7 linked regions of the Homo sapiens genome follow. The protein of the gene in region 1 interacts with the protein of each later gene in a pairwise test. Each region holds a gene or a part of one and is shown in the gene's direction. Other genes may lie near its edges. The genes, in order: FAM210B, CCDC167, CYP4F2, STX6, TIMM23, CD300C and SERP2.

Region 1 (3,500 bases):
TACAGGCATGCACCACTGCACCCAGCTGATTTGTTTGTTTGTTTGTTTTGGGGGACGGACTCTCGCTCTGTTGCCAGACTGGAGTGCAGTGGCGTGATCTCGGCTCACTGCAAGCTCTGCCTCCCGGGTTCAAGTGGTTCTCCTGCCTCAGCCTCCCGAGTAGCTGGGACTACAGTCGCATGCCACCAAGCCTGGCTAATTTTTGTCTTTTTAGTAGAGCCAGGGTTTCACCCTGTTGGCCAGGATGGTCTCAATCTCTTGACCTAGTGATCCGCCCCCTCGGCCTCCCAAAGTGCTGAGATTACAGGTGTGAGCCCCCGCGTCAGGCCGATTGTATGTTTTTTTGTTGTGTTGAGACAAGAGTCTTGCTATGCTGCCCAGGCTGGTCTTGAACTCCTGAGCTCAAGCGATCCTCCCACCTCGGCCTCCCAAAGTGCTAGGATTACAGGCGTGAGCCACTGCACCTGGCCACTAAGACTTTTATTCATTCAGCTACTTCATTACATTTTTTAAAATACTGTAAATCTTATAGCCAAATCAATTTCTTCATTTAATCCCTTGCTGTAATAATTGTTTTCTTTGCTTCTTCCCCCCTAGTGGTGTGGACATGCCTGCAATCCTGCTGAAACTCGGATTTAAAGAGTCCCTGGTACAGTCAAAAATGGCAGCAGGCACAAGTACCTTCGTGGTGGCCTATGCAATCCACAAGCTGTTTGCGCCAGTGAGAATCAGCATTACGCTAGTCTCTGTGCCCTTGATTGTCAGATATTTTCGAAAAGTGGGATTTTTTAAACCTCCAGCTGCAAAACCTTAATGAACTCTTCAGTCGTACACACTGAAAACCTATTTCTTCTAAATTACATGATTTGGATTGGTTTTAGGGTTTTAGGGTTGTAGGGTTTCTTTTGGAGAGGTAGGGGGCTAATTGCTATGTTCTCATGGATAAACTTTGCCAGCAAAAATCAGGCTTTTGAACAATTTTAATTTTTTGCCTCATAAATTTTGTGAATGCTATTCATTATAGGGCTTGTATATATAATCTAAAATGTCAGCAAGGCATCGGAGATGGGTTAACATCTCAAAACAAAATAGCCTACAAATGTTCCTTGTGGGAGACTTTGGCGAGGGTCTGTGGGTAAAAGCACCAGGGGGTTAATCTTGGCTCAGTTTCCTAAAAAGCATTGATTAATTTAACTGGCTTTTAAATATCCCCTTCCGCTGATATTTGTTGTCAGCTGCCTACAGTTTAATATGCAGCGTTCACAAAACAGCTGCCAGTGCTACAATTAATGAAGCAAAACTTAATATGTAATCACAATCTAAATTAGCATCAATACTTTGACATTCATTACATTGGTTTGGGGGAAGAAAAGTAGTTCTGGTATGTTTCATTGATCCCCAGATACCTTCCAATCTGGACATGATGGGGCTGATTCCAGATGGTTTTTCTGAAATTTCATTAAGGTAGGTCAGCGTCATTTGTCTCTGTTTAGGTAAAATATAAAAACCCTGCCCAGTAGCAGTGGCATCGCTTGGTTCCTGATGCCCATGTTCCAGAGGAATTCGGATACCACAAACAGCTAAGACAATCTCAGCTTTTCTTAGACAATCTTCTATCTCAAACTTCAGACATTCCAGAATTGTCATGATGTTTACACTGTCTGAGTTAAAAATCCTGTTCAAGAAAAAAAAAGATTTTGTATCACTTCTTAAAAAGGAATATTCATAGCACTTGTCACAAATAGAAGGCAACCATGAGATAATACAAGCCAGGGAGAGGCTTGTATTACATGACAGGTGTAATTAGTCTGCTGAGCCAGCTTTACCCAATGAAGGGCATATGTGTTAGAGAGATTAGCTAAGAGTAGAAATTCGAGCATAGAGGCCAGGTGCGGTGGCTCACGCCTGTAATCCCAGCACTTTGGGAGGTTGAGGCAGGCGTGTCACTTGAGGCCAGGAGTTCGAGACCAGCCTGGCCAACATGATGAAACCCCGTCTCTACTACAAATACAAAAATTAGCCGGGTGTGGTGGCACACGCCTGTAGTCCCAGCTACTGGGGAGGCTGAGGCAGCATTGCTTGAACCCAGGAGGTGGAGGTTGCAGTGAGCCAAGATCACACCACTGCACTCCAGCCTGGGCGACAGAGGGAGACACTGTCTCCAAAAGAAAGAAATCCCAGCGTAGATCCAAACTGAGACACTGAGGCTTCGTCCTTATAGTAGTCAGGAGCAGGCGATTGAAGTAATTCTGTCCTGCGGGGTTCAGCATCATGCACGTTCCCCCTGGGCCATTCTCTGATGCAGGGCACTTGCTCCACACTCTGGGAACCCAGATTCACCAGTCTGCCCTGTCACGTAGTTGAAGGAGTTGCATTTATCTTTCTGGCTCCTAATTCCTTTAAAATTACATTTGTTGCAGAACCTCCACAAGGCTAAATAAAATTACATTTGTGACCATCAGAGAACTGAATAAACCATTAACTGGCCATCCTGGTTTTGCAGAGATCAGGTTGTTGACAGTTCCTGGTTGACCCACAGCTACCCATGTCAGTTATCTCCACTAACATATCCAAGAATCTTTGTAGGACAATTTCTCCACCTGCAAGGTCTTTCAGGTAGAACTCTTCTTTTAAGGCAATTAGCCCATTGCCAAAAGGTTTTACTGTCTTAAAGCTGTCTTTCTGAGATCTAATTCCAAGGACTTCTCCACAGCTAAGTGAGATGCCTCACACCATTAGGTGATGCTTTGGACAGAACAGAGTATTTTCATCTTGTGTTTAAAGCAATTCCTTGGCTTCGGCTCCTCACCACTTTCTATGCCAGTCTCCCATTTATGTCCCTAGTAATGCCTATGCAAAAAAAAAAAAAGAAAAAAAAGAAAAACTGATGGTGAAACCTACAGGTTTAAGGGCTTAAATCTCAAACTTTGTTAGGAGTAACAGGAGCGTGCTGAGCGGGCAAGCAATAAAACAAATCATACCAAAAAGCCACATTGCTCTCTCCTAAGCCCCAACCCCACTCCACTCCTGTGGCCAGGGGTCCAAACAGAAAATAACCGGAGAAGACAAGGAGGTCAAAGGATCAGGGAACTAAGCATTATGTGAATTCACCAGCAAGATGTACAGAACGCCTGTGTTTACATTGTTTTTATGGAACTAGCAGAATAAAACATCTATTTTAAAAATGAAAGCCATTGTTTCTCTAATTTATCTGACAAAGTGAGCAGCTTAAATTCTGTGAAACATCTTTATAGTTTATGAACTTTTTTATATTCCTTCTGGTAAGCCATGGTTGTTGCTGATGATGAAGTGGCACTGTGACCAGTGTATTAATGTGCTACTACAATGAGCTTTTTCTTTGCTTGTGTGGGATTGTCTGGGGAAACGTCCCAAGTCTCACTGGTGTCACTGGGAAAGTCAGTCACGTGATAATAACTATAGCTTGGGAGGGTGGCACATGAACTATTTGGGAAGGTCAAAGTCAGTTCAGCTCAAGACTA
Region 2 (3,500 bases), on another chromosome or scaffold:
CCACTTTCCATTGGCAAGAACTAAAACCCCACCTGACTGCAAGGGATCAGGGAAATGCGTTCACCAGTCAGGAGGCCACATAGCCAGCTACTGTTTGCTTACTATGGAGGAAGAGACCAGTGTGTTTTCACAGACAGCCTGTAGTCTCACTACAGATGGCACCTCACCTCACAGTGTGGTTGTGAGGATTAAATGAGACATTGCGTTAAGTGCCCAGCACGTGCCTGGCACCGGATTGGTAATCAATACATGGTAGCTCCAGCCTTTGTATTTCTTTTGCATCCTTCCACCATGGCTAAGTCAAACTCGTTCTTGGGCATTCGTTCACTCATCTATAACATGAAGGACTTGAATTTCACCAGGGGTTACAAACTCCTTGACTATGGCCCAAATACAGATCACAGATGTCTTCTGTTTGGCTGACAGACTTTTAAGTTTTTATTTTATTTTATTTTATTTTTAGACAGGGTCTTGCTCTGTTGCCCAGGCTGTAGTGCAGCGGCATGATCTCAGCTCACTGCAGCCTCCAGCCTCCCGGGTTCAAGCAATTCTCGTGCCTTAGCCTCCCGAGAAGCTGAGACTACAGGCGTGCACCACCATGCCCAGCTAAGTTTTGTATTTTTAGTAGAGACGGGGTTTCACCATGTTGGCCAGCTGGTCTTGAACTCCTGACCTCAAGTGATCCGCCCGCCTCGGCCTCCCAAAGTGCTGGGATTACAGGCGTGAGCCACCACACTCGGCCGGATTTTTACGTTTTTAAACTTGGTGGGGCATGTATTCTCCAAGTGCCTTATACTGGGGCAGATTCCATTGTTTTACCCTCTCCATACCACGGTAGATGTTTATATTTGCTATCTTGGTCCCTAAGTTTACTTTTTGCTTGGATATTCGAAGATTTGACATCTGTAACCGTGTGCCTTGGAAAAAGCCTGACATCTGGCTGGCTGTCTCCCCACCTTGCTTCTCAGTTGCCCCCAGCGGGTCTGAGTATTGAATGTGCACTGATGCTCAGTAGCAGTAGATATTGTCCTCTTATTAAAAGTTGTGTGCTCAGAGCCAATGAAGTGGTGATTTAATCAAAAATGTTTGTTAATCTGACGAGTGCAATAAAACCCCCACAAGTGAGTGATCTCAGCACCTGCAAACAGTCTCCACTTGTAATGAAGCAATTACCAAGCAGGCAGCACTCACCCTTAGGGCTGGCTTGGGCCAGCTGTATAAGCAGCCACCTCTTAGGACAACCAGGGCACCCTCTAGCCTCCCCCTCAAAGTGGTTCCTTTTGAGGTCTTTTTATCCAATTCATTTGCCACCATATGAGATCTCAGAGTTGGAAAAAACTGTGAGTTTTAGCTTCTGAGATTTCATTCTTAATAAGAAAAGAAAATTATAGTTCAAATGAGAAATCACCCACCCAGTACTGATTTTAATGTTGTGTGGGAGGAAGGAAAGGTTGAATTTCAGTCTAAACTGATAGGAGAATTTTGACTGATGTAAAACCTGTTTGTGTTTTCGGATCTCTGATGGTAATGAGCTGTTCCTTTGTCATTGCACTTTTCTTTTGTAGCTGGACTGTTCAAACTGGTGTCTTTAGATGTTTCAGTGACCAGTTGGTCTTGAGTTAACAGATGTGTGGTGTCTTAGCCGGTATCCTAAAGTGGATAACTTGGTTGGATCTGACCCCTAGTACAGAAAGTTTATCAGTTTGGAAAGCTTTTGGCTACAAGTTATAGAAAACTGACCTCAATGATTTAAGCAAATGGGAGTAGACTTTTCCCCTTATAGAAATTTGTAGGGGCCAGGTGCAGTGGCTCACGCCTGTAATCCCAGTATTTTGGGAGGCTGAGGCAGGTGCATCATTTGAGGTCAGGAGTTCGAGACCAGCCTGACCAACATGGTGAAACACCATCTCTACTAAAAATACAAAAATTAGCCAGGAGTGGTGGTACACGCCTGTAATCCCAGCTACTCGGGAGGCTGAGGCAGGAGAATTGCTTGAACCCAGGAGGTGGAGGTTGCAGTGAGCCAAGATCGTGCCACTGCACTCCAGTCTGGGCAACAGAGACCCCGTCTCAAAAAAAAAAAAAAAATTTGTAGGTAGGTGGCTACTGGCATTGGTTCAAAAGCTTAGCTATGTCAGAGTTGGTATTTCTGCATTCTCTTCACTGTTTCCTCATGGTCACAATATAGCTGCCACAGCTCCAGTCTAATATTCAACTTTAACTCAGGAAGGAGGAGGAAGGAACAACACTGTCCCTTTTATCAACAAAGCATAAGCTTCCCCAGGAGTCTCCTAGCTGACTTCTGGAACGTCTCATTGGCCAGAACTGGGTCATGAGCAAGCCTAGCTGCAGTGAGGTTGGGAGAGCATCTGCTGAGCTTTTCCACCTTCTGGAGTAGAGGTGGGCAAAGGAGCAGGGGTGGGGAGTCGGTGTTGTGTTGGCCAGTTGACAGTATCTGCTGTAAGGAATAAATGCTAATGGGAGTCATTGAAAATTCACTGGAATCCTTACCAGAAAAAGAGGGCAGGATCGGCTGGGTGCGGTGGCTCACGCCTGTAATCCCAACACTTTGGGAGGCCCAGGCGGGCGGATCACCTGAGGTCACGAGTTCGAGACCAGCCTGACCAACGTGGAGAAACCCCATCTACTAAAAATACAAAATTAGCCAGGCATGGGGGTACATGCCTGTAATCCCAGCTACTCGGGAGGCTGAGGCAGGAGAATCGCTTGAACCTGGGAGGTGGAGGTTGCGGTGAGCCGAGATGGTGCCATCGCACTCTAGCCTGGGCAACAAGAGGGAAACTTCGTCTCAAAAAAAAAAAAAAAAAAAAAAAAAAGGCAGGATCACTGACCATGAGAAGTGGTAGGCTGAGGGGAGAGAATGGCCTAGGCCAGGAAGAGCACCGGAAGGCTTGACGCTTGTGGTTATTTGTATGGTGCCAGCCACTGCAGTAGCCTCCGTGGGGCAGGGCAGGCAGAAGCACCAAGTGTGGCTGAAGACGGTCTCCGCTCTGGAGCAGGCTGTGCACAGGGCTCAGGGGAACCTCCCACTTTCCTGAGACAAGGGCTAGGAGCAGGTGAGTGGACTGTCAATAAATATTTGCTGAACTGGCTCGATTGGCAGGAGGAGGCATTGAACCTTCCACCCTGACGTCTGGGCCCAGTTGAGTGGAGGTCACAGTAGAGCAGGCGGTTAGACGCCACCTTGCTGGGACCCTGAACCCCAAGCCAGGGGCTGGGAGAAAGGCTCGCAGCACGCAGAGGACTGTTCAGGGGCCGCTGACCATTAAATGAGCCTCACCTGCTGCCAGGCGAGAGCGACAGGTCGCCATTGGGCAGGTGATTTCTCGCGGCAGCCTACATCTGGCTCTGCGCCACTTGACGGGGGTCAGGAGACTAAAACCTCATTACCTAGCGCGGCTGGATGGCGGCGTGTGTGGAGTGGCTGTCTGCCAGCATCTTAATTAATGAATTCATAAGGCTCGGGGTGGATGCCAGTT
Region 3 (3,500 bases), on another chromosome or scaffold:
GTTTGAAAGGAGAGTGCAGGGTGAGGCAATTGGACATCGTTAGTATTCAAGGCCCCTTGCCAGGCCTAGCATCACCTTGCCTGTCCCAAAGCCTAGAACAATGAGGAGGACTTGTGGCTGGTGGGGGATCTGGGCTGCTACTTCCATGATGTCCACCTCTGGTGGGTCAATTCCCTTTACCCCATCCTATAGCTTGTCTGCCCTAAGTTCGTTGCTCTCCTGCTGCAGGTCCCGGGGATCTCCAAGAGGAGACTCCACCCCAGCTTGGGTCCCTTTCCTTGACCCCTGTGCTTCCCATCGTTGGACGGGCGAGGCTGAGCAGGGGGAATGGGCAGCATCCTACAGAGACCATGGCTCTGACCTCAAAATGCTGAGTGACTCTGGGCTGGTACCCAGCTGTCTCTGGTTATTGAAGTCTCTTTCAGTTGTGAGTGGTGGAAACCCAACCTGGTGTGGTCTAAGCAAAGAAAGATAATCTATTGACTTTAAAGTCCAGGGAGGGTGGCCTTCAGGCATGGCTGGATCCAGGTCTCACACAAGGTCACTGGAAATCTGTCTTTCTCTCTTGGCTTTAGCTTTCTCCATGTCGCTTTTCCTATCAAGGTGGCCTTTTCCTCATGATGTCAACGATGAGTCCCAGAAGCTCAGTTCTTATGGGAAAGGCCACCTTTCCCCTAGAGTTCCCAGAAATGGCCCATGGTTTACTTCTCCTGGCCTGGATCACAGGACCAATTTTTCACCCAATCCCTGTGTCTCTGATTGCCCAGTCTTGGTAGGCCTGGGTCTTCCAGAGCTACTGTTTTGGGGGCACAAAGAAGTTTGTTGGTTAAGGATTCAGGCCATGGGTGCAGACAGACCTAGTCTTAGGCCTCAGGCTTGCCGTGGTCTGGGACTGTGGGCAAGTGACTTTATTGTTCAGAGCCTCAGGCTCTTCATCTGGAAAATGGGATGAATGAGAGCCCAGGGAACATGGTGTGTGGATCCACATGGGGAAAGACCTTTTCTGTCTGTGTAACTGAAGGACTGGAGAGTCCTGCATGGAGGATGTGAGGAGGCAGGGGGTGCTCAGCACTGACAGGAGGATGAGATGCTGCTTGAAATTCTCAGGGAGAGGGCTTCGACCTCTTCCCTGCAGATCCTTCTCTCTCACAGCCTAGGAGAGCATGAATTGGGTCCTGTGTGTTTTTCTCCAGATTCACAGCTCAGAAGAAGGTCTCCTATACACACAAAGCCTGGCGTGCACCTTTGGGGATATGGGCTGCTGGTGGGTGGGGCCCTGGCAGGCAGTCATCCACATCTTTCTCCCCACGTGCATCAAGCCTGTGCTCTTTGCTCCAGGTAGACATCGCACTGGCCAAGCTTTGCCCACAGCTGGGGTTGCTGTGCTGCCTCCAGCTGAACACGTGACCGATGTGCAGACAGGAGGGGCTGTGGTGGAGATGCCATTGCCTCCATCGCCCCTGGACTTCCACCTGTCTAACCTCTGTTGCTGTTTGCTCATGTCTGGGGCGTGTCTCTACAATGGCTGTTATATGGCCAGGTCTGCCTTGTATATTTACACCTGGGTCCTGGTTACACCTGAAATATGTTATACCTGGTTACATCTGGTATATAATTCCAACTGGGGTCATGTAGAGCTGGTCAAGTTTGGGGCTTATCTGTGGCCAAGGACATTTGGGGCATGTGAGGGCCTGTTTGGTTCTTGTCTCAGGTGCTGTTTGACACTGCCGTTTTCTCCTGGTGGTCCAAACATCTGGGCGTTGTGTGAGGTCTGGGGGTTGTGTGAGGTCTGGGACCCAGGGTCCCTATGTGAACTGTCTGAGACATTATTTGAGTCTTGTCTGAGGCATGTGTTATAGTATATTTGGGTCATGCCTGAGGAACAGTCTGGTTCACATGTTGGCTATGTCTGTGACATTAAAGGTACCATATTTATATTCAACCCAGAGCCTGTATGTGGAACACGCTTTTAAGATCATGTTAGACCATCTCATGTGCATGTTAGAGCACACCATCTCATGTTAGGAATTGTCATGTATTTTGTGGCCATGTCAGGACATGTGAACACATGTCAGGGTCATGTCTCATGTCCAGGTCCATGTCAGAAGATGCCATATCAGAAGATGTCAGAGAGTGCTGGGACAGACAGGGTGTCCTAGGTCCTTGTGAAGCATTCTGTAGAATGCTGAGCTGTGCTCAGGGGTTGCGGAACATGTTGGATCGTGTAGGAGGCATGTCAAGGCATGCTGGAACCCTGACATAGCTCCTACACGCCATGTTAGGCAGTGTCATTGCTGTACTGTGCTGCTGTAGCCTGGTCTGGTCTTCCCTCCCCTCCCCATCCTCCCTTCTTCCTCTGCCCTTGGCCCTCTTCCTGCTATGTGGGGCTCAGAGTGGGAGAAGTGCAAACCTCTTGCTGGGAGCCTCCACCCACCCCCAAAGTCCCTCTTTCACCTGCCTCCATGGCCCCTGATTGTCCTCATTTATGTCAGCTGCCATTGCACCAAAGGACAAGTTCTTCTACAGCTTCCTGGAGCCCTGGCTGGGTGAGTATCTGCAGGTGAACAGGGTTGGGAAAAACGTTGGGGGGCCAGGGGAGGGAGAGGTCCTTGCCCATGGCCCTTGGCTGCCCTGCTAGGGGATGGGCTCCTGCTGAGTGCTGGTGACAAGTGGAGCCGCCACCGTCGGATGCTGACGCCTGCCTTCCATTTCAACATCCTGAAGCCCTATATGAAGATTTTCAATGAGAGTGTGAACATCATGCACGTGAGTTATTTGAAGCCAAGGTCCCACTTGCAGCCTTGGGGTGAAAGGACAACAGAGAGATCTAGTCTGGAGTTTTGGCTCTGCTGGGTGCCATTGGGCCATTGCTCTTTCTCACTGAGCCTTGGTTTCCTCATCTGTAAAATGGGGATAATAATCCCTACTTAAAAGATGGTCAGAGTAATGTAATGGAGTCACGTCTCTGGTGCATAGCAGGTGCCCAGAAGGTGTCTGTTTCTATGTTTCCATCACCAAAGCCCTGTAAACACAAGAGGGTCATGACAACAATTTCATAGTAGCTGTTGCTGATAAGAAACCACCTGAAAACTCATTGGTTTAAACCAATAAGTGTTTATGTTTGCTAATAAGTCTTTGGGACAGTTGGCAGGTTCTTCTGTATATGGAAGGGACCACTCATGGTACATGAGCAGCTGGGGGTCAGGTAGGCAGCCTTGCAGGTGTTGACTGAATTCTGCCACATGTTTGGGTTTTGGCTGGGACATGTTTGGGTTCTCTCACGTGTCTAGGTTTGGCCTCATCTGGGACCCCTGGATGTTCCTCCCTATGATTGTCTCCTTCCAGAAGGCGCGCCATGGTTCACAATGCAGGCAGGGTTCCAAGGAGTAAGACAAGGCTTAGCTTCGTTAGTTATTAACTCATCATTTTCACCACATTGTATTTTGACATCGAAAGCCAAAAGTCCAACACAGAATCAAAGGCAGGGGGATAAAATAGGC
Region 4 (3,500 bases), on another chromosome or scaffold:
TTATTTCCCATTTCTCTGGCACCAGTTGATCGTGGAACAGCAGGATGAGCAGTTGGAGCTGGTCTCTGGCAGCATCGGGGTGCTGAAGAACATGTCCCAGCGCATCGGAGGGGAGCTGGAGGAACAGGCAGTGTGAGTATTGAGACACCCCTCTCGCTTCAGTGAAATTGAGGGGCAGAGCCATCCTATGACACCCCTAAAAAGCCTGGCAGCTACGTGGCTGGTAAAATCAAAAGCTATTTTATTCATAGCTGCATTTTTATTCTGTTTTACAGATTAGCCTCCCCAAAAGAAGCAATTCTACTTCGTAAATTTTACTACAGGCTTTAGGTGAAGTTGTTATTATTTTTAAACACCTCCAAAAACAGACACAGATGTCTCTGAGCAGATACTCGAAGTATAGTTATGAATGGGAATATGAAACAGAGAAGCCTCTGTAACCTGTGGGAATTTTTGTTCCAGAGAGGATAGGACATGAGCTGACTTTATCATCCCATGACTCTCCTGCTATATTGAACAGACACGTTTTGCTTTGAATCTTAAATTATTGTAACTTTGTTTTTTTTTTTTAAAAAAAACTTACAAATTTAACGCCAGTTAATAAAAACTCTTTCCTCTCAGAAAAATAAATAAAAACAAAACATAACCTCAGTTTGTTTTTCCTTATGAACAATCCCTTTTGCACCCAGAAGTTCGATGGCAAAAACTGCATTCTTAAATGCTGCCACATCATTTTGTAAATCTTTTGAAAGAGAAAAATGAAAAAACAGTCCACCAGGATATTTCAGAAACTTTCCTGTCTCGATATTACGTTTATCATGACACATTGATTGATTATGAATTCTTAGTGGGCCCGTGTTCTACACCGGGCCTTCTGGAAGCCAAGGGATATAGAAGGGAACAGAGCAGACAAGACAACCCATCTCTGCCAAAGAGTTTGCCGCTTGCAGGGTAGAACGGATATTGGGTAAGTGGCGAGGGGTCATTAGGTGATGGCAGTGAAGTGGGAGGGCCCCTGTGATGGGGCCAGTGCATGCTGCCTGGAGAGCCCTGACTTAGCCCAAGGTCCCTGAGGAAGAGGGGTTTAACTGAAATCTGAAGGATGTGTGGATGCTAGCCAGGTGAGGTGAGAGTTGGTGTGGAGGCAGGTGGTGTGGGGTGTGTAGACCAGGAGGAAGAAAATGCACCTGTGAAGATGGAGAGGTGCACACGTGCATGGAGCAGAGAGGTTCCATGTGTCTGGAGGCAGAGAACAAACCAGGGAAGGCCTTGTCAGCATGGTAAGGAGGTACGACTACTTATTCTCAGCATAATGAGAGACCAGTGGAGGTGAGGTGAGGAGTGATGGTGTGATCAGGTGTGATTTAGATGATGTGCTGCAGTGGAGTCAGGTAGGGAGACCAGGTAGGAAGCTGGAGTAGCCAGAATCTGTTTCATGTCTATCTAAAATGGGTCCTGACCCTAAAGTTCAGTTTGAGGAGGGGAAAGGACTAATGGCCTGAGCTTCTCTGTTGATGAGGCAGCCTGGCTGGGCAGTGGGTAATAGAGTCAGAGGGACTTCCAGTTAAAGATGGTGCATTGACACACCCCTACCTCCACTCCCTCTCCACAGCTCACTAGAACAATAGTAAAGGGGTTTGTTTTTAAGGGCATGAAACCGCTGGGCATGGTGGTTCACACCTGTAGTCCCAAGTACTAGGGAAGGAGGCTGAGGTGGGAGGATTGTTTGAGCCCAGGTGTTTGAGGCTGCAGTGAGCTATGATGGCACCACTGTACTCCAACCTGGGTGACAGAGGAGACCCTGTCTCTAAAAAAATAGAAATAACAGATAAATGGGAAAAAGCATGGGATTTGGACTTAGACCTGTGCCATCCAGTATAATAGCTACTAGCCACATGTGGCTGTTGAGTAAGTGTTATGTGGCCAGTCTGAATTGAGATGTGCTCCAGAGGTAAAATGCTTACTGGATTTTGAAGACTTCATATAGAAAAATATAAAATAGCTTATTAATAATTTTTATATTACATGTTGAAATTACAGTATTTTGGCTATATTAAACTAAATACAACAGAATTAATTTCACCTGTTTCTTTTGAAATTTTTACAAACATGGCTACTAGAAAATGTAAAATGGCATATGTGACTCATATTTTTGTTGGATGGTACTGAGATAGATTTGGGCTAGCAACTTGGTTGGTGAGTGTCCATGGACTGAAGGTCGGATGATGTGCCTGATGATGTGCCTGTTTTGTCTTCAGTATGAAAAGTCATACCTAGCGCAGAAAGGTAGCTCTTGCTTTTTAGAGTTTGGCCCTGCCTGGATAGGCCTGCCAGCTGCAGCGCCAAGATGCTGCCAGGATCTAAAATGAGTTAAATATTTTTTAATTTGAAAATTTAGGTAAGGGACAAAGACTTATTTTAGTTGTCAACATATATGTAACAGTTGATTTAATGAAGAGTTGGTTGCCCTGAATCCTGCAAGGCTGTCAGGTGTCTATTGTGGGCACAGATCAAGACCAGGAGTTTCTAACTGCCATTGATGCTGTCAGAGTTAATACAGCCTTTTTAGTAAGACTGTTAGTACTAATTGGCATATTACATTCTAGCCTCAGAATAATCATTTACTAATCAAAAGTTGAAAAGTCTGGAATATTTAGTGACTTATGAAATAGGCACTGCTGAAATAGTATTTTGGGGTTTTCTTTCCCAGCTGCACATTGGACAGCAAATAGTGTAAGCCTGCTGGAGTCAGTTTTCCTAGTGGGAAATACTGGTTTCTCTGTGAGGACAGATGGGGAAATGCGCGTGTGCATGCACAGACACACTGTCACACACCCCATCAGGGATGTTAGTCCTGAGGCCTTCTGGGTTTATAATAAAGCACGTAGTGCCTTATAGGAGGTTATTTTATTAAAGTACATTCCTTAACTCATATTGACATAAAGTGCTTTTGTTTATTACCTGGTTCTCACAAGAGCCCTGTGAGGGAAGTTGAGCTGATAGGATTGCCCTATTTTACAGGTGAGGAAACAGTCCCAAAGAGTTATAGAGTATGTTGTCGAAGGTAGCAATGTAAACAAGTGGCAAAGCCTGGTTGTCTGCCTCAGATAGCATTGTTTCTACCACATTGCACTGCCACTGAGTTTGTGTTATTGTATAGACAGGTCTATAGTCTTGCAGTTCTGAAATCTAGGAAGCTCTAAAGAAATCTCGTTGTTTTTTTTTTCTTTAAATTTGCCGCAAGCTCATGTTACAGAAAAACCTTACCTGAACTGACTCCAACTGTGATTCCTCATAGTTTTCTCTGCAGAAATATTAAGTATCTGATTACGGGGACTGCCCCAGACCCTCCTGGTGGTGTCCTCCTAGTGGTGTCGACTAATACAAAGGATATGTAATTTAGGCTTTTTTTAATCCTGAGAATTCCAAAATCAAAATCCTATCTTGTCCCAAGGATTTTGGATAACAGAGTGAGGTCCTGAAACCCAGTGTTGCCTATT
Region 5 (3,500 bases), on another chromosome or scaffold:
ACACTCAGCTTGGTTTTCATTATTATCCTTTTAGGATACAGATGAGTTTATTTTACCTACCGGAGCTAATAAAACCCGGGGCAGATTTGAGCTGGCCTTCTTTACGATTGGAGGATGTTGCATGACAGGTGAGTGTTACATACTTTTTTCTCAAGAGTGCTCAGTTCAAGTAGTTGAGGGTGCGTAAAATCAAAAGCAATTAGAATGTTGGTTTCAGGGTTTTTTTTTTAATATTTACATTTGTCTTTTTCTATTAAATAAAAATGAAAAAGAATCAGAAGTGTAGTTATGCAGATTTGAGTTTGTTTTTTTAATATAAAGCTGTCTTTATCTGGGTGAATTGTTATGATTTACCAGGGGCTGCGTTTGGTGCAATGAATGGTCTTCGGCTAGGATTGAAGGAAACCCAGAACATGGCCTGGTCCAAACCAAGAAATGTACAGTAAGTCTCTTGTAACCATCTGATGTAGTGATACTTGAATATTAAGCTCTGTTGTATTGGTTTGATGAGTACAACCTTGAGATTACAGATGGTTAGCATAGTTATGTGCTTTTTTGTCTTTGTTTTTTAATCTTAATCAAAATAAAAGCAACTAAGGAATCAGATTACTGACTCTAAGCTTTTAAAAAGGAGTGATTTTTTTAATCAGTGTCCCTCAGTCAGCTAGTGCTATGCCAGCCTGACTTCTCAGCTGCACCTGTTACATTCTCCAACCCTATGTGACTTGCTTTTCAAATTGTTGAGTTGCTAATGGGAATTTTGGATTGTTTGGGGGCATGCAGATCCATAGGAAATGGTAATGAAGAATAAGCAGCTCATGAGAGTGATGGCTCAAGCTGCCATCATTTAACTTGAAGTTCTTACTGTCTTGACTTTATGTTTCCGAAATGATGAGCCAGATACATTTTAAATAAAATTTTTAGAATTAGAGTTAATTCCAAAAGGATAAGACACAGTTTTCTGTTAGAACTTGAAGTTACAGAGAAGGGAAAGTACAGTTAAAAGGATCGGAAAGTATGTTTTCACCCAACTTAAGAAGTAAACATGGCCAGTCCCTCTTGATATTCCTTAAACAATATGTTTAGTTTTGCCCATTTTTATGCTTCATGTAAGTGGAATCATGAGTATGTATTCTTCGATGGCTACTGTTTTGTTTTAGGACACTTTAAACTCCATCTTCCTTTCATATTGTTCAGCCAGCAGATGGCACCAGATGTGCTAGAATTAGACCATGGGAAACTGGAAGGCCTGTTAAATTGTGTGGTTTTTTGAGAGACAGGGCCTTGCTGTGTTGCCTGAGCTGGAGTGCAATGGCGCCATCACAGCTCACTGTAGCCTTGACCTCCTGGGCTCAAGTGATCCTCCCACCTCAGCCTCCCGAGTAGCTGGGACTACAGGCACATGCCACCATGCCCAGTTAATTTTTTAATTTTTTGTAGAGACGGGGTCTCACTGTATTGCTCAGGCTGTTCTCAAACTCCTGAGCTCAGGTGATCCTCTTGCCTCAGCCTTCCAAACTGCTGGGATTACAGATGTGAGCCACTGCGCCTAGCCCTGTTAAGTTTTTTATATTCCTGTTACTGTGTGGATCTCTGTCCATGCTTTACCAGCCTAGATCCTTCAATATTTTTATTACTTGTCCCTCGCTTCAATAATATTTTTAAGTTTTTGTATTATGGGGAATTTTGAATATATAAAAGTAGACAAAATACATAGCATAGTGAACACATGAACCATAACGCATCCTCAACAACCATCAACCATGGCCAGTTCTATCCCATTTCCTTCTCCTCTCCCATCTTATTTTGAGACAAAAACCCCAATATCATATTAAATACAAATTTGGAAGTAGATCTCCTAGAAAAGACAACTTGCTTCCTTTCTTAAAACAAGTTATTAAAATGCTTGTTAAAAATGAAAAAATGATGGCTGAACTTAAAATATGTTAGTAAATATGTAACATAATTAGAAACAATATACTTCTGTTTGTAAACATTACTGATTTTTTAAAACAATCTTTTAGAAAATACAAATTTTTGTTTCTGTAGAACATTAATTGAGTCGTTTAATAATTAAACTGAATGAGTTCCTTCACTCTTTGTTACTGTATTTCCATAATTTCCAGCAGTAGTCAGCTGTCTGGACAGAACCATTCCTGGGATCATGTTACACTGCTGGGAGAAGAATGTCTTCTCTTCATCCAGTTGCGTCCATCACTGTTCTGGTGGTGTCTGGCACTGGTGCAAGGCAGAACTGTGCTTCCTTGAGAGTGTGCTGAGCATTCACCTTGGCTGCTTGGTTCTAGTCTAGGAGCAGACACAGGGTGCTTTCCCCATGTATTCTAGTTAGATGGCTGATTCCTTCTCTTTAATTCTACTTTATATTCTGTACTTTGATATTCTTTACTTTATATTCTGTACTTTGATATTCTTTACTTTGATTATCTTTAACATTCTAAGCATATGTTCCCCTCCCAAAAAGAACCTTTTAGAAGCTAGCTCGCCATAGTTAACAGTGGCATTTTTTACATAGATTAGTTTCTGTAAACCTCTGTAAGATACATTCCAGGCTGTCATTCAAAGCCTTATATATATTTAATGTGTATTCATTATATTATACATTTAATAATAAGAGTTTTCCTTATTATTATTATTAAGGACTTATATAAAAGTCCTTAAGACTTTTGCCTAAAGTTTTGAAAGTTTTAACCTAATTTTCACTTATGTAGAGTAAAAACCATCCTTATTGAAATCGGAGATATTAAGATGTATTTTAGAATTTAAAAAACTTTGCGCCCTGGGTCTAGACATGTTAAATAGCCATTATTGTTTTTAAAGGTTACTAGAGAAATAATGATTCTAAATACAGATTCTTTCTCTTTCTGCCCTGATAGGATTTTGAATATGGTGACTAGGCAAGGGGCACTTTGGGCTAATACTCTAGGTTCTCTGGGTAAGTAGAGATCTCATTTGATAATAAATTGTTAAAGAAAGAATGCACAAATATCATGAACAATTTGATCAACCCATATTCTGGTCCTAGGATATGAGACAATTATGTTTAAACCCATTCCAATGCATAATGTAGATACTACTTAGGGAAAGACCATGAACTAACTTATGAAATAATCTCAGGTGCTAATACCGTTCTGAATACCATTGCTGAATTTTTAAAATCTTTTGGACACTGCACACTCTCCTTTCCAAGCACAACACCCAATAAAATCATGTTTAAATGAAATCCAGGTAATTTAGGTCCAAAGTAAAGAGCTTTGTATGTTAGGCAAGGTTCAAGGTCCTGTAGTGATACATGATAAATTAATCCAGCCCTCTTGCTATGTTTTCTTAATAGCCGGTTCATTAGTCTGTTTACCTGAGTAGATTTCAGGCACCTAATTGCCACAATTGGAATAGGTTCCTTGTAGATAATGAAAACGTTTGCAGTTCTAGGCAAAAGGTAACTTAGTAGTGCTTAGTCAGAGCCTTATGCTTTCATACCA
Region 6 (2,543 bases), on another chromosome or scaffold:
TGATGGATGCAGGGCATCTGTCCAGCACATCATTGGTGACCTTGTCTGTGAAAATTGGAGCAGAACAGGTGAGAGTAAGTGGGAGACCCATGTGATGTCATCAAGGTTGACCTGTGTTTCACCCACAGCCGGGACGACCACAGCCTCCAGCCCCCAGAGCTCCATGGGCACCTCAGGTCCTCCCACGAAGCTGCCCGTGCACACCTGGCCCAGCGTGACCAGAAAGGACAGCCCCGAACCCAGCCCACACCCTGGGTAAGGTGCCTGCGCATAGGACTGGGCCACGCTGGCGGCCTCCCCACTGCGTGTGATGTTTAGGGGACTCGGATGTCCCTTCTTCCAGTCCCTTCTTTGTTCGCACCTCCCACACCAAACGTGAAGGTTCTATTAAGTGTCAGGCGCTCCTTTTGGGATTGGGTCACAGCAGGGAACCACACAGCCACTGTCCTGCCCTGGTGGAAGTTGAGTTCTACTGCGTGGATTCACGCATTGAGCAAGTCAGCACAGAGGCTGATGTACAAATACAGCAAAGGGTAATGAATGCTGGGATGAGATGTTTGACTCTTGGGTTTGGGGAGAGCGTGTGCAGGTGTTGGAGTTGCTATTTCACTGACGATGATCAGAAGAGGGTTTGAGAATTAGAGGACATGAGCACAGAGACCTCAAGGGTTGGGGGCTGGGCACTCTGGGGTCTGGAGGAAGAAGGGTCCAGGTGGAGGGAGGAGTGAGGCAAATGTCCTGCGAGGAGCCTTGGGACCTGGCCAGGCCAGGGAAGGGGGCAGATGCTCTGGGGTCCGGTGGCCCTGGTCCTCTCCCCTGCCTCTCTCGCAGCCCTGGCCAGAGTTTCATCCTGTTTGATAAGCCCAGTCCTCTGAGGAGCTGAGAGCTGAGCTGTCCATTCATTAATTCCTTCAACAACCACTGAAGTTGTAGGGCAGATTATTGGAGACTCCGGGTAGGCAGCAGGTACTCACTGTGAATGAAACAAATGGTCCCTGCCCTCCTGGAAACGCTGTGTACAGGAGAGTTGACACCAAACAAATAACCCTTTGTGAATTCCGGGACCCCAGCTGGGTAACCCTCCATGGGGAGCACAGAGGTAGACAGCTGCGTCCTGGACACAGACCCTGCCTGGATCCCTGGCGTGACCTCACGTCCTCTCATGGTCCTGCCCTTCCTGTGTCACAGTCCTCAGGTCAAGGGTAAATCCGAGGCTGAGGGTTAGGGGCCGTGATGCTGAGACGGGATGGACTGTCCAGGGGGGTGCTTATGTGGTTGGCTGTGGTCACAGGATTGGGACACAAGGGTCAGGGGATGGTGGAGGGCACCTGGGCCTCCCCTGGGGAGGTGACTCACTGCCTGTCACCGTGTCCCCACAGCTCCCTGTTCAGCAATGTCCGCTTCCTGCTCCTGGTCCTCTTGGAGCTGCCCCTGCTCCTGAGCATGCTGGGTGCCGTCCTCTGGGTGAACAGACCTCAGAGAAGCTCTAGAAGCAGGCAGAATTGGCCCAAGGGTGAGAACCAGTAGCATCTGCTGTCCATCAAGGCCCTGTGCTGCAACAGAGCCCCTCTGGGGGACTGGAATGACCTCCTGACCACTCCCTCCCGGGCTGCTCTCTCCACATCTCCTGGAATCCTTTGTGAGCCTCCTTCAGCCTTTTCCCTGTGCCCGATCCTCATGTGTCACATGTGAACCTGACGGACATGGACGCCCTGAGCTGTGAGTCCACGTCTCATGTGCACGCCCCGGCCAGCTAAGCCTCGGGCCGTCAGCAATACCTCTGAGTGCCCGGATGCCCTCCCTGCACCCTTCCATTTCTCCAGGAGCCTGGCACTGCTTCCTCCACCGTTTTCACAGGGAGAAGCAGGTCTAGGACTCCCCTGCACCTTTGCCACCATAATGGCCCACACTCCCTGGGTCCAGGAGTGTAGAATATGCGGCTGCTTCCATTTGCTGAGTGTGTCGATTCAATGATGCTTTCAAACTTTAATAAATGACAATGTGTAGGTTTGGGATGTATCAGGCCCACTCAGTCAGACCTGAGTGAGAAATCCATTGTTCCCTGATTTCCACAGGCCTTTGCTGAGAATAGTGGACCAAGCCCCATGTTAGGCCTCTCGGAATGGGGGTCCCTGCAGAAAAGGATCCAGAATTTCCCCCAAAGCCTGACTATTCCCTCCTTCAGGTAGACACATCCTGGCCAGTGTCTTTAGGTCCCTCTGGGAGAGCTGGTAGAAGATTCTCAGTGTGAACTGTGGTAGCATAACCAGGCCTACCCTTCCTCCTTCTTCAAGGGGACCTGACCTCTCCTTCATTCCAGGGCTGTGGGTTTTAACTGGTGCAAATTTGGAAACGGATGGAGGGCTATGACTCCTTGATGTGGTAGTTAAGTGAGTCTTTTGCTCAGTAGTGTAGACCATGTCTGTCTATACAGACGAAAGATGTTATCATTTGCCCACCATTTCAGTTCCAGGGTCGCCATGATGACCTGGCCAACACCCAAGACCCCTGTGAGGCAGATGATTCCCATGAGTCCTCCTGGT
Region 7 (3,500 bases), on another chromosome or scaffold:
CATGTTGGCCAGGATGGTCTCAATCTCTTGACCTCATGATCTGCCCACCTTGGCCTCCCAAAGTGCTGAGATTACAGGCATGAGCCACCGCACCTGGACTGTCTTAGATTCTTTAAAGAGATTTGTAACAGTTCCTTCAAAAAGAATTGCATGGTTTCTTATTATTACCTCGAACTTTTGAAGTTATGAATTAACTTAATATGGGGGCTACATGGACTAAGACACAGATGGTTTCCTATTTGTTGACTTACATCCTGCTGATAAGTTTTTGTCTAAGGGCAAGAGTAAGCGAGAAGTAATATTTTTGAGCATCTACTTATGTCATCGTATTTATTCCTTGCCATCCTTTGAGGTACCTATTATCCACAGTTTTATAGGTAGAGAAAGCAGGGCTCAGAACTGTGTAGTAATTTCCCAAAGTTCACAGCTTTGTAGGCTGGCAGATAGTGCTAAGCACTGGTCTGCATGCTGGGACAGGGAGAAGCAGCAGTTGTTGTAGTCATAGTAACAGTGATGATAGCAGTAGCTACCAGGCAGTGAGTCCTCCATGTGTGAGGACCCTTCCTATATGTCATATGGTTTAATCCCTGTGACAGCCCTGCAAAGGCCATGATCCTCATTTTACAGAACAGGAAGCAGCCTCTAAGAGATTAATTATTTGTCCAGTCACACAGCTTTTCAGCAAAGAGCTGATATTCAACCCAATTCCATCTGATCCTAACTTTCTGCTCTAAAGTCAACTTGTTCGTCAGGATTAGCGATAGTTCCCTGATCACAAGAACAAAGTCTGAGGCATGGTAGAAGTAATCTTTTTTTTCCTAATGTTGAATATACAGCTGCCTCCTGACATTCCTATTGAGCCAGAATACAGAATGTTTATTTAATTTTTACTCCTTGTGAGCCTTGGTGGGGAGGAAAGAAACATCAGATATTTCTGCAAGCTTATAAATTGTTGTAGGGTACTTTCTCTTCCAACTGCTCCTGTTAAGACCCACCCAAGGCCGGGCACGGTGGCTCACGCCTATAATCCCAGGACTTTGGGAGGCTGAGGTGGGTGGATCACGAGGTCAGGAGATCGAGACCATTCTGGCTAACACGGTGAAATCCCGTCTCTACTAAAAATACAAAAAATTAGCCGGGCATGGTAGCGGGCACCTGTAGTCCCAGCTACTCGGGAGCCTGAGGCAGGAGAATGGCGTGAACCGGGGAGGCGGAGCTTGCAGTGAGCCGAGATCGCACCACTGCACTCCAACCTGGGCGACAGAGGAAGACTCCGTCTCAAAAAAAAAAAAAAAAAAAAAGACCCACCCAAGAACCCAAACTTAGCTAAGAAAATATCTGAGCACATCCAGAATTAAATATCACAAGTTGTTGGACCAACACCTTCACCATATCTACAGATGAGTCCCTGACACTCACATGGAGCTGATTGACTCTGATTTGACTCGTAATTCTAACAGTTTCTGTTTTCAGCTTAGTCTACGGCAACAAAATAATAGTACAGGACCCACTGCAGATTGGTGTAGTAATACAAGAGATGTGACCAGAGATGAGAAGAAAGAGACCCAAAAAATGATCAGAAGCAGAAATGGGAGCCCAGAAGTGCAGCTGACCAGAAGCATTTCAGTGTCAGATCACACGCAGCCTCCTCTGTAATGAGATCACAGCACGTCTCATCAGTTACTGGTTTTCATTATGGTGACACTGAACACTCATGAAAAGTTAGCATTGAAATATGTTGGTATCTCCAATTTAGAAAGGTAGTGATGATGGGTACAGTGTTTTTACGGGGAAAAAAAGCCAAAAAATGCATTCATGTTTGTCTACTCTTAAAACCCAGCTGTCCAAGAACGATTCCCCAAGGCCCTGTCCATCATTTCTCTTTCTATCCTTGAAGCGCAGTGTCTGACACATAGGATGTGCTCATTGATGCCAGATGATGAAACTTGAATGGCTGGTTTCCTAGGGTTCTGGATAACTCTGTTTTACCGTGGATCCTGGATGTATTCCAGGATGACTTTAAGAAGGCGAGAAGGGGTAAGACCCCTGAGAGCTCAGTGTTTATTCTGTTTTTACACATGGTTAGATGAGATGATACCCACCCTCCTTCAAAAAAAAAAAAAAAAAGCCATTCAATACATGGTAGTTACTCTTATCATTACCATCATCTTTGTCAACACTGACCACGGTTGCTCACTGGGGAAGATGTGAAAAAGAAGTTGGGATCTTCCGCTCCTGGGACACATTTGAAACCCAATAGCTGGAAGCAGGCTGAAGCTATGTAACCAGCTCTCATCCACATGGGCAAGGGTCCCAGGAGTTCTCTGTGGGCTTACAAGCTACCCACCCCCTTGACAACTCCAGTTATTAAAGGTTGAGCCCTGAATAAATAAGTGCCGCTCTCCATAAGAGACAGCCGCCTTTCAGAGAGTTCCAAGCAGCTGGAAGATACTCACGCATGGAGGGTTCTAGGCAGACAGAGGCCGGGCCCCGTGGGCTGCTCCGAGCACCTGGTCGGCCTTCCCAGCACAGGGCTCATTGTTTTACAGGTCACAGCCATTTTGAAAAGGCAGACTCACTGACCTGTTTAATGAGTGCAGTTTCTGCACGAAAGCCCATATCCCTCTCCCAGGCAGCCCCAGAACTTTGCTGGGGAAGGGGGCCAAATCTCTTCTCAGTGCCTGAGGGATTTCTGGCCTTAACTGCTGGTGGAATTAGCAGGAGTTATCTATAAATCCCTGAGGCATCCATCAGCCGACTGAGCGAGGCTGCCTTTTTAAAGAAGTTCACTGACCTCTTGTTAACTTAACTCCTTGTTAGGAAATATCTAATCAGCTGTGAGCTAACACGTCAGGGCCCAGGGGTCTGCAGAAGCCGGGCTCACTGTGGGCTGGGTTTCCAGCTGTGTGCAGTCTGGTGTCTGAGCTGTGGTGTTTTCCTCTTTTCAGCTATCTTTCAGATCATTCAGAGCATAAGGATGGGCATGTGAGAAAGCCAGGGATTTGACACCACCTCCCTCCCACTGGAGGCGGGAGGACAACGGAAGCGGTCAGCCAGTTTCTGCGGGAAACAAGCAGGCCACACGGAATAGAAAAAAACGCTCCCCCACTTGTTCCCTGATCACTTCATCGTGGATGTCAGACCAAATTGCCTTCTCACAGGACATCTTGGTGCATCCGCGTTCTCAAGCGGAAAGGACATTTTGCTTTTCTGTTGGCAGGATTAGTAGCCACGCGGGTCGTCCGCAGCAGTGCTGTTTTTTTGGTTTTTCCCTTGGTTTCACTAATGCGTGCATGTGGCCCTCTGAACGATCACTGGTTTACTTTCTATGGATACAATCTCTCCTCCATTGAGAATTGATTTTACAAATAAATGTCTTCGTTCAACCTTATACCATGTGTGGGTTACAGTGAGAAAACTAAAGTGAAGAAAACAGCAGAATAGCTCAAGGAAAGTTGGGAGGTGGGGAGATTTGGTTATGCAGTTGGAGGAGGCGCAGG

The links.
Region 2: the proteins of FAM210B (region 1) and CCDC167 interact in binary tests that used the Homo sapiens proteins (3 or more experiments, as listed by UniProt).
Region 3: the proteins of FAM210B (region 1) and CYP4F2 interact in binary tests that used the Homo sapiens proteins (3 or more experiments, as listed by UniProt).
Region 4: the proteins of FAM210B (region 1) and STX6 interact in binary tests that used the Homo sapiens proteins (3 or more experiments, as listed by UniProt).
Region 5: the proteins of FAM210B (region 1) and TIMM23 interact in binary tests that used the Homo sapiens proteins (3 or more experiments, as listed by UniProt).
Region 6: the proteins of FAM210B (region 1) and CD300C interact in binary tests that used the Homo sapiens proteins (3 or more experiments, as listed by UniProt).
Region 7: the proteins of FAM210B (region 1) and SERP2 interact in binary tests that used the Homo sapiens proteins (3 or more experiments, as listed by UniProt).

What each region holds. Positions count from the first base shown.
Region 1 is NC_000020.11:56,365,474-56,368,973, forward strand, and holds the end of FAM210B (protein FAM210B, mitochondrial), read left to right. Parts: intron 1-597; coding exon 598-814; 3' UTR 815-3,190; downstream 3,191-3,500. UniProt on the Homo sapiens protein: Plays a role in erythroid differentiation. Involved in cell proliferation and tumor cell growth suppression. Involved in the metabolic reprogramming of cancer cells in a PDK4-dependent manner.
Region 2 is NC_000006.12:37,493,394-37,496,893, reverse strand, and holds part of CCDC167 (coiled-coil domain-containing protein 167), read left to right. Parts: intron 1-3,500.
Region 3 is NC_000019.10:15,891,575-15,895,074, reverse strand, and holds part of CYP4F2 (cytochrome P450 4F2 precursor), read left to right. Parts: intron 1-2,492; coding exon 2,493-2,546; intron 2,547-2,638; coding exon 2,639-2,766; intron 2,767-3,500. UniProt on the Homo sapiens protein: A cytochrome P450 monooxygenase involved in the metabolism of various endogenous substrates, including fatty acids, eicosanoids and vitamins.
Region 4 is NC_000001.11:180,984,871-180,988,370, reverse strand, and holds part of STX6 (syntaxin-6), read left to right. Parts: intron 1-25; coding exon 26-132; intron 133-3,500. UniProt on the Homo sapiens protein: SNARE promoting movement of transport vesicles to target membranes. Targets endosomes to the trans-Golgi network, and may therefore function in retrograde trafficking.
Region 5 is NC_000010.11:45,982,489-45,985,988, forward strand, and holds part of TIMM23 (mitochondrial import inner membrane translocase subunit Tim23), read left to right. Parts: intron 1-34; coding exon 35-128; intron 129-357; coding exon 358-442; intron 443-2,119; exon of another isoform or gene 2,120-2,323; intron 2,324-2,894; coding exon 2,895-2,953; intron 2,954-3,500. UniProt on the Homo sapiens protein: Essential component of the TIM23 complex, a complex that mediates the translocation of transit peptide-containing proteins across the mitochondrial inner membrane.
Region 6 is NC_000017.11:74,540,573-74,543,115, reverse strand, and holds the end of CD300C (CMRF35-like molecule 6 precursor), read left to right. Parts: intron 1-128; coding exon 129-255; intron 256-1,379; coding exon 1,380-1,527; 3' UTR 1,528-2,043; downstream 2,044-2,543.
Region 7 is NC_000013.11:44,394,324-44,397,823, forward strand, and holds the end of SERP2 (stress-associated endoplasmic reticulum protein 2), read left to right. Parts: intron 1-2,948; coding exon 2,949-2,989; 3' UTR 2,990-3,391; downstream 3,392-3,500. UniProt on the Homo sapiens protein: Interacts with target proteins during their translocation into the lumen of the endoplasmic reticulum. Protects unfolded target proteins against degradation during ER stress. May facilitate glycosylation of target proteins after termination of ER stress.